Regions from separate parts of the Homo sapiens genome. Here regions 1 and 2 are each linked to region 3. Evidence: fine-mapped QTL for protein levels in blood plasma. A gene starts in region 3. Each other region holds a variant in brackets. All regions are shown on one strand. Distances are from middle to middle.

Region 1 (2,758 bases), 190 kb after region 3:
GGATGCATTACATAGAAGGGAACTACAATATAATTAACAGCTGATTTCAGATCAGAAACAATGGAGGCCAGAAGGAGGTGGGATGGCATATTCAAAGTGCTGAAAAGAAGACAAAAACTGTCAACCAAGTAGTCATATCTAATACAAGTATTCCTTTAAAATGAAACTGAAATAAAGACATTCCCAGGTAAACAAAGGGTGAGAATTTGTTGTTGGCATGCGTGTCTACAAGAAGTACTCAAGGAAGTCCTTCGGGCTGAAAGGAAATGACATCAGACAGTGACATGAATCCACTTGAAGAAGTAAAGAACACACGAAAAAGGTAATTACATAGGTAAATGTAAGACACTATAAATACATTTTTCTTTTAACTTATCTAAACTACAATTGCATAAAATACTAATTATAAAATTACTATTGACCCTTGAACAACACAGGTTAGAACTGCACAGGTCCATTTATACATGGATTTTTCTCAGTAAATATATTGGTAAATGTTTTGGAGATTTTGCAACAATTTGAAAAAACCTGCAGGCAAACTGTGTAGCCTGTCAATATCAAAAAAAAAATAAGAAAAAGGCAGGTATGTCATGAATGCATAAAACACGTGTAGCTACTAGTCATTTTATCATTTACTACCATAAAATGTACACAAATCTAATATAAAAAGTTAATAATTTATCAAAATGTACACACACAAACACAGATTGTAAATGACACTATTCATAGTTGAGAGTAATGTAAACATAAAAATACAGCATTAAGTTATAACTGCATAAAATTAACTGTAGTGTATGCTGTACTGCTATAATAATTTCGTAGCTACCTCTTGTTGCTATTGTGGTGAACTCAAGTGTTGTAGGGCTTAAAATGCCATGCGATGTTAATCATCTCTGCATGAGCAGTTCATCTCTCCAGTAAATTGTGTATCACAGTAAAGAAAGATCTCTTGCTGTTCTCACATATCTTTCATTGTATTTAGTGCAATGCTGTAAACTTTGAATAACACCATGGGATCTATACGAAGTGCCACTAGTGATGCTGGAAGTGCTCCCAAGAAGCAGAGGAAAGTCATTACATTCAAGAAAAACTTGAATTGCTTGATATATACTGTAGACTGAGGTCTGCAGCTGTGGTTACCCACCATTTCAAGATAAAC[G/A]AATCCACTGTAAGGACCACCGTGAAAAAAAGAAAAGGAAATTTGTGAAGCCATCACTGCAGCTATGCCAGTAGGCACAAAACCTTGCACTTTTTGTAAAATGTCTTTTTATCAGCTTGTATGGTGAGTGCAGGATTGCTATAAGAAAAGTATACCTAATATTCAAGAAGTGAAGTAATTATATGACAAGTTAAAGCAAAAGGAAGGTAAAGACTCTAAAGCTGGAGAATTTAATGCCAGCAAAGGATGGTTTAATAATTTTAAAAAGAGGTTTGGCTTGAAAAATATTAAGATAACAGAAGCTGCTTCTGCCAACCAAGGGGTGGCAAATTCCCAGAATTAAGAAAATCATTGAGGAGAAAGGATATCTGCCTGAACAGGTTTTTAATGCGGAGAAAAGTGACCTATTCTTGAGGAGGATGGAAGAAACACCACAAAGAACAGTTATTAATAAGAAACGGAAGTGAGCACCAGGACTTAAGCAGGAAAAGATAGGCAAATGCTATTGTTTTGTGCAAATGCAGTTGGGTTTATAATAAGCACTGCCTTTATCCATAAAGCTACTAACCCTTGAGCCTCAAGGGGAAAAGGTAAACAGCTGCAGTCTTTTGATTGTACAACAAGAAGGCCTGAATTGTCCCAGCAGTGGGGGTTCCCACCTCTAATCCCAACACTTTGGGAGGCCCAGGCAGGATCCCTTGAGGCCAGGAATTCAAGATCAGCCTGGACAACATGACGAGACCCTGTCTTTACAAAAAGAGAAGAAGAAGAAGGAGAAGGAGAAGGAGGAGGAGAGGAAGAAGAAGAAGAGGAGGAGGAGGAGGGAGAGGAGGAAGGAGAAGAAGAAGGAGAGGAAAAATTTAAAATATTAGCTGGCATGGTGGTGTGGGCCTGTAATCCTGGCTACTTGGGAAGCTGAGATGGGAGATTGGTTGAGCCCAGGAGTTCAAGGTTACAATAAGCTATGACTGCACTACACTCTACCCTGGGCAACAGAGCAGGATGCTGTCTTTATTTTTAAAAAATAATAATAAGAAGAAAGCCTGAACAACAAGAACACTTTTTCTGGATTTGTTCAATGATACTTTGTCCTTGAAGTCAGGAAGTACCTTGACATTAAGGGACTGCCTTTTAAAGTTCTTTTGATATTAGGCTATACCCCTAGCTACCCAGAACCCCATGACTTCAATACTGAAGGTGTCGAAGTGATCTATTTGCCCCCAAAATGATGTCTCTAATTCAGCCGCTAAATCGGGGGGATCATAAGGGCCTTTAAGGCTCATTACACTTGGTATTCTATGGAAAGGATTGTCAACGCTATGGAAGAGAACCCTGATAGAGAGAACAACATGAAAGTCTAGAAGAATTACACCTGTGAAGATGCCGTTGTTATAGAGAAAGCTGTGAAAGCCATCAAGCCCTAAACAATAAATTCTTGCTGGAAAAGACTGTGTCCAGATGTAGCGCCTGACTTAACAGGATGTACAAATGAGCCAAACATGGAAATCATGAAAGAGGTTGTGTGCACGGCAAAAAAAAAAAAAAAAAAAAAGGAGGAGAGTGAAGGATTTCAAGATATGGATCTTGGAGAAATTCAAG
Region 2 (2,758 bases), 45 kb before region 3:
AGGAGGAAGGTGAGGAGTAAGGGGAGGGGTGATTTTGGCTAGAGCCAGCAGGGGTCACTGCAGATCTAAGTAACTTCAGGGAAGCGGCAGGGCCACCCATGGGCCCTCCCACATTACTACCTGCCTTCGTAACTGGGATACAGGTCTTGGACCAGTTCTGGGGAGAAGGATTGGGATTGGACTCACGCAGTGGGAGGTAGCTGCCTAGGGCATCTGCCCTTGGTGTCCTCCGGGGCCTAGGCTGTCTCTCCTCCATGGAGGCTCTTCACCAATGGGGTGTGGGCCTGGCGTGCCACCGGACTCTGAGTTCCAGCAGTGCCTAGTAAGTGCATCTTGAGATGCTCCCCTATAAAGAGCTCTGAGATTAAATGCGTTTCCTTGTCTCGTCCCTCGTCTCTGAGGGTTGTAGCCCAGATTAGCATGTTAGAGGCTCAGAGAAGTCCTGCAGTCAAGAAAACCTGTTAGACTGTGTTTAACTCAGGTTTCCTGTGCTTATTTGAGCCCGTTTGCCACAACATAGTTAGGGAAATGCTGGCTTAAGGGTGGGAAAGGGGGTGTGCTTGATACATTAACCTTCCCCAAGAGCATTTGCCCTCCCAACACACTCCCTCCTCCACCCATTGCAAGTAGTGTGTGACACATGTCTGTTGTAGAAAAGTGGGGGAAAAAACTACAAAGAAGAAAGTTACCCATCCCCTGCCTCCAGAAGAAAGTTACCCATCCCCTGCCTCCTGCTCCTTAGTCTCTTCTCAAAAGAGCTCTGGCCACTGTCCTCGGTCTTCCTGGAGAAAGGGTGATGATGGAGCTCCCCTCAAGGCACACCCACTTCTACTGGGGAGAAGCCCCAAGAGGAAAGGGCCCTTTTAGAGGTCATCTTATCCACCCCTCCGTCTCCTCTCTGTGCAGATTCTTGCTTCCCTCTCTTGCTGACATTCCTACAGGAAGGGAGATGGTGGTGGTGGTTTGGAGGGTGTTGAGGGGCGCAGAGGGCAATTGGGTATGTAGATCATCAGGGTGGAAGGTGAGCTTCCTTTCTAGGTGGGGAAACAGGCTCAGAGAGGGGCCATGACTTACTGGTGTTTCACAATGAGCCAGTGGTGGAGCTCACAGATCCTGGCCCCAGACCAGGCACCCTCCTCCCCCTAACCCCCATCTCCAGCTCTCAATGCCAAGAGTCTGGAGCGGGCCCTGTGCACTCCAGGCAAGGCTGCGGTTTCTTCTGTGGGACTGTGGAGCCACCCAGGGTGTGTGGGTGCTGCGCACGCGCACCACAGTTGTGTAACAGGCTCTGGGGCGTGTGCACGCGCTCAGTAACCTGATGCAACAGGGAAGCTGTGGTCCCGTGAGCTGGGGTGTGGGCGCTTGGCCGGTGCCCAAACCACAAAGAGTATTTGGCT[G/T]GTGGCTAAGGAGGCCAGGCATGGGGGTCGCAGAGTTGTCTACGTCAGGGCTTGTCTATCCCTAGTTGCCCACATCCTGGTCCCTGTGGGCGCAGGGCTGGGAATGGGGCTGCCTGGCCAGGTGATACTGTGGAGGAGGGGTTGGGGCCTTGCCCCTTCCTCCTTCTGTTTGCCACGATGCCTATTGTGATGAGGATGGGGGGCAGGCGGGGCTTCCTCCCTGTGGTTCCATCTCTTCCTGGCTGTAACCCCCCAACCCAGTTCTGTACCCTGCTCTCTCCACCAATCCTGGAGCCCTCACCACAGATCCAGGTCATTTTACACAGCAATATCTGCCTCTCACTCCCCCACCTCCCCTGAGTCTCACAGCCCTGCCCTCCCTACATAATAGGCTTTCCTGGGCACCCCAAATTGGGAGAAGCAGAACGGGGAAGGAGAAGAAGAGTGGCCACTTTGCAGCCAGCCCAGATGCTGACTTTCCGCTGCCACTTCTGAACTGAGTGACTGAGAAAGATCAGTGTCCCTTCTCAGCCTCCATGTACTCATCTAAGAGGTGGGGGCAGTGATACTCCCTGCTGAGAGTGGTGGAAAGATAGTGTGCTCCTGTGAACAGGAGTCCTGAACTCTTGAACTCTAGGGTCTAGGAAAGAACTCCATGAAAGGGGAGTTGCCCCTTCATTCTGCTCCATGTGGATTGAGTGTTAGGGCACCCGCCCTCCTCCCAACTCCCCAGCATTTCTATCACCAGACAGGGTGGCAGGCACTTTGGAGAGCCAGGGTCCTGGGAGGAGGTGGCCCATGAAAGCAGGCCCTATTCTGCCTGCCTGTGGCCACCTGTGTACCCTCTCTCCCCTCTTGTCCGCAGGGAGGTGGGGCACATGCATTTCTTCTGCCCCTCTCCACTTGCTCCAGCACTTCAGAAAGGCAACATCCTTGGGGGTGGCCAGTGGGTTCCAGGGATGCAGGGTTAGGTGACGCAGGGAGGGCATCTATGCCCAGTGTCCTGACTCTCTTCCCTGGCTGGGCTGTACCTGGCACGTTGGGGCTCCTCTCCAGTGCTCCCAGGATGCCCTGGATCTACATTGCCTTATTCTGCACTAACCACCTAATGTTTTGATGATCTGCTTATGCATCTACCTAAAAATAACAAATGATGCACTTTGGGAGGCCAAGGCGGGAGGATTGCTTGAGTCCAGGAGTTTGAGACCAGCCTGGGCAACATAATGAAACCCCTATCTCTACAAAAAGTAAACAAATTAGCCAGGTGTGGTGGTGCACACCTGTAGTCCCAGCTACTCAGAAGGCTGAGGTGGGAGGATTGCTTGAGCCCAGGCAGTCAAGCCTGCAGTGAGCCACGATCA
Region 3 (2,758 bases):
GGGAAGGATAGGGGAGAAGCTGTGAGCCTGGAGAAGTAGCCAAGGGATCCTGAGGGAATGGGGGAGCTGAGACGAAACCCCCATTTCTATTCAGAAGATGAGCTATGAGTCTGGGCTTGGGCTGATAGAAGCCTTGGCCCCTGGCCTGGTGGGAGCTCTGGGCAGCTGGCCTACAGACGTTCCTTAGTGCTGGCGGGTAGGTTTGAATCATCACGCAGGCCCTGGCCTCCACCCGCCCCCACCAGCCCCCTGGCCTCAGTTCCCTGGCAACATCTGGGGTTGGGGGGGCAGCAGGAACAAGGGCCTCTGTCTGCCCAGCTGCCTCCCCCTTTGGGTTTTGCCAGACTCCACAGTGCATACGTGGGCTCCAACAGGTCCTCTTCCCTCCCAGTCACTGACTAACCCCGGAACCACACAGCTTCCCGTTCTCAGCTCCACAAACTTGGTGCCAAATTCTTCTCCCCTGGGAAGCATCCCTGGACACTTCCCAAAGGACCCCAGTCACTCCAGCCTGTTGGCTGCCGCTCACTTTGATGTCTGCAGGCCAGATGAGGGCTCCAGATGGCACATTGTCAGAGGGACACACTGTGGCCCCTGTGCCCAGCCCTGGGCTCTCTGTACATGAAGCAACTCCAGTCCCAAATATGTAGCTGTTTGGGAGGTCAGAAATAGGGGGTCCAGGAGCAAACTCCCCCCACCCCCTTTCCAAAGCCCATTCCCTCTTTAGCCAGAGCCGGGGTGTGCAGACGGCAGTCACTAGGGGGCGCTCGGCCACCACAGGGAAGCTGGGTGAATGGAGCGAGCAGCGTCTTCGAGAGTGAGGACGTGTGTGTCTGTGTGGGTGAGTGAGTGTGTGCGTGTGGGGTTGAGGGCGTTGGAGCGGGGAGAAGGCCAGGGGTCACTCCAGGATTCCAATAGATCTGTGTGTCCCTCTCCCCACCCGTCCCTGTCCGGCTCTCCGCCTTCCCCTGCCCCCTTCAATATTCCTAGCAAAGAGGGAACGGCTCTCAGGCCCTGTCCGCACGTAACCTCACTTTCCTGCTCCCTCCTCGCCAATGCCCCGCGGGCGCGTGTCTCTGGACAGAGTTTCCGGGGGCGGATGGGTAATTTTCAGGCTGTGAACCTTGGTGGGGGTCGAGCTTCCCCTTCATTGCGGCGGGCTGCGGGCCAGGCTTCACTGAGCGTCCGCAGAGCCCGGGCCCGAGCCGCGTGTGGAAGGGCTGAGGCTCGCCTGTCCCCGCCCCCCGGGGCGGGCCGGGGGCGGGGTCCCGGCGGGGCGGAGCCATGCGCCCCCCCCTTTTTTTTTTAAAAGTCGGCTGGTAGCGGGGAGGATCGCGGAGGCTTGGGGCAGCCGGGTAGCTCGGAGGTCGTGGCGCTGGGGGCTAGCACCAGCGCTCTGTCGGGAGGCGCAGCGGTTAGGTGGACCGGTCAGCGGACTCACCGGCCAGGGCGCTCGGTGCTGGAATTTGATATTCATTGATCCGGGTTTTATCCCTCTTCTTTTTTCTTAAACATTTTTTTTTAAAACTGTATTGTTTCTCGTTTTAATTTATTTTTGCTTGCCATTCCCCACTTGAATCGGGCCGACGGCTTGGGGAGATTGCTCTACTTCCCCAAATCACTGTGGATTTTGGAAACCAGCAGAAAGAGGAAAGAGGTAGCAAGAGCTCCAGAGAGAAGTCGAGGAAGAGAGAGACGGGGTCAGAGAGAGCGCGCGGGCGTGCGAGCAGCGAAAGCGACAGGGGCAAAGTGAGTGACCTGCTTTTGGGGGTGACCGCCGGAGCGCGGCGTGAGCCCTCCCCCTTGGGATCCCGCAGCTGACCAGTCGCGCTGACGGACAGACAGACAGACACCGCCCCCAGCCCCAGCTACCACCTCCTCCCCGGCCGGCGGCGGACAGTGGACGCGGCGGCGAGCCGCGGGCAGGGGCCGGAGCCCGCGCCCGGAGGCGGGGTGGAGGGGGTCGGGGCTCGCGGCGTCGCACTGAAACTTTTCGTCCAACTTCTGGGCTGTTCTCGCTTCGGAGGAGCCGTGGTCCGCGCGGGGGAAGCCGAGCCGAGCGGAGCCGCGAGAAGTGCTAGCTCGGGCCGGGAGGAGCCGCAGCCGGAGGAGGGGGAGGAGGAAGAAGAGAAGGAAGAGGAGAGGGGGCCGCAGTGGCGACTCGGCGCTCGGAAGCCGGGCTCATGGACGGGTGAGGCGGCGGTGTGCGCAGACAGTGCTCCAGCCGCGCGCGCTCCCCAGGCCCTGGCCCGGGCCTCGGGCCGGGGAGGAAGAGTAGCTCGCCGAGGCGCCGAGGAGAGCGGGCCGCCCCACAGCCCGAGCCGGAGAGGGAGCGCGAGCCGCGCCGGCCCCGGTCGGGCCTCCGAAACCATGAACTTTCTGCTGTCTTGGGTGCATTGGAGCCTTGCCTTGCTGCTCTACCTCCACCATGCCAAGGTAAGCGGTCGTGCCCTGCTGGCGCCGCGGGCCGCTGCGAGCGCCTCTCCCGGCTGGGGACGTGCGTGCGAGCGCGCGCGTGGGGGCTCCGTGCCCCACGCGGGTCCATGGGCACCAGGCGTGCGGCGTCCCCCTCTGTCGTCTTAGGTGCAGGGGGAGGGGGCGCGCGCGCTAGGTGGGAGGGTACCCGGAGAGAGGCTCACCGCCCACGCGGGCCCTGCCCACCCACCGGAGTCACCGCACGTACGATCTGGGCCGACCAGCCGAGGGCGGGAGCCGGAGGAGGAGGCCGAGGGGGCTGGGCTTGCGTTGCCGCTGCCGG

What was found. PIP is the posterior inclusion probability: the model's chance that the variant is causal. Protein levels are from the aptamer-based SomaScan assay of Sun 2018.
Region 1: its variant is fine-mapped to the plasma level of the VEGFA protein (Sun 2018, PIP 0.95).
Region 2: its variant is fine-mapped to the plasma level of the VEGFA protein (Sun 2018, PIP 0.95).

The regions. Positions count from the first base shown.
Region 1 is chr6:43,956,711-43,959,468 of GRCh38, forward strand. No RefSeq gene overlaps it. Among named protein-coding and RNA genes, the nearest start is that of LINC03040, 42 kb to the right of the region's middle. The variant G/A (reference allele first, on the strand shown) is at 1,160.
Region 2 is chr6:43,723,960-43,726,717 of GRCh38, forward strand. No RefSeq gene overlaps it. Among named protein-coding and RNA genes, the nearest start is that of MRPS18A, 38 kb to the left of the region's middle. RefSeq lists an enhancer at 982-1,071. The variant G/T (reference allele first, on the strand shown) is at 1,398.
Region 3 is chr6:43,768,877-43,771,634 of GRCh38, forward strand. VEGFA (vascular endothelial growth factor A) reads left to right here and starts at 1,335. Exons shown (of 8, transcript NM_003376.6): 1 at 1,335-2,436. The coding sequence starts at 1,831. RefSeq lists silencers at 1,148-1,397, 1,775-2,714 and enhancers at 1,760-2,525, 2,526-2,758.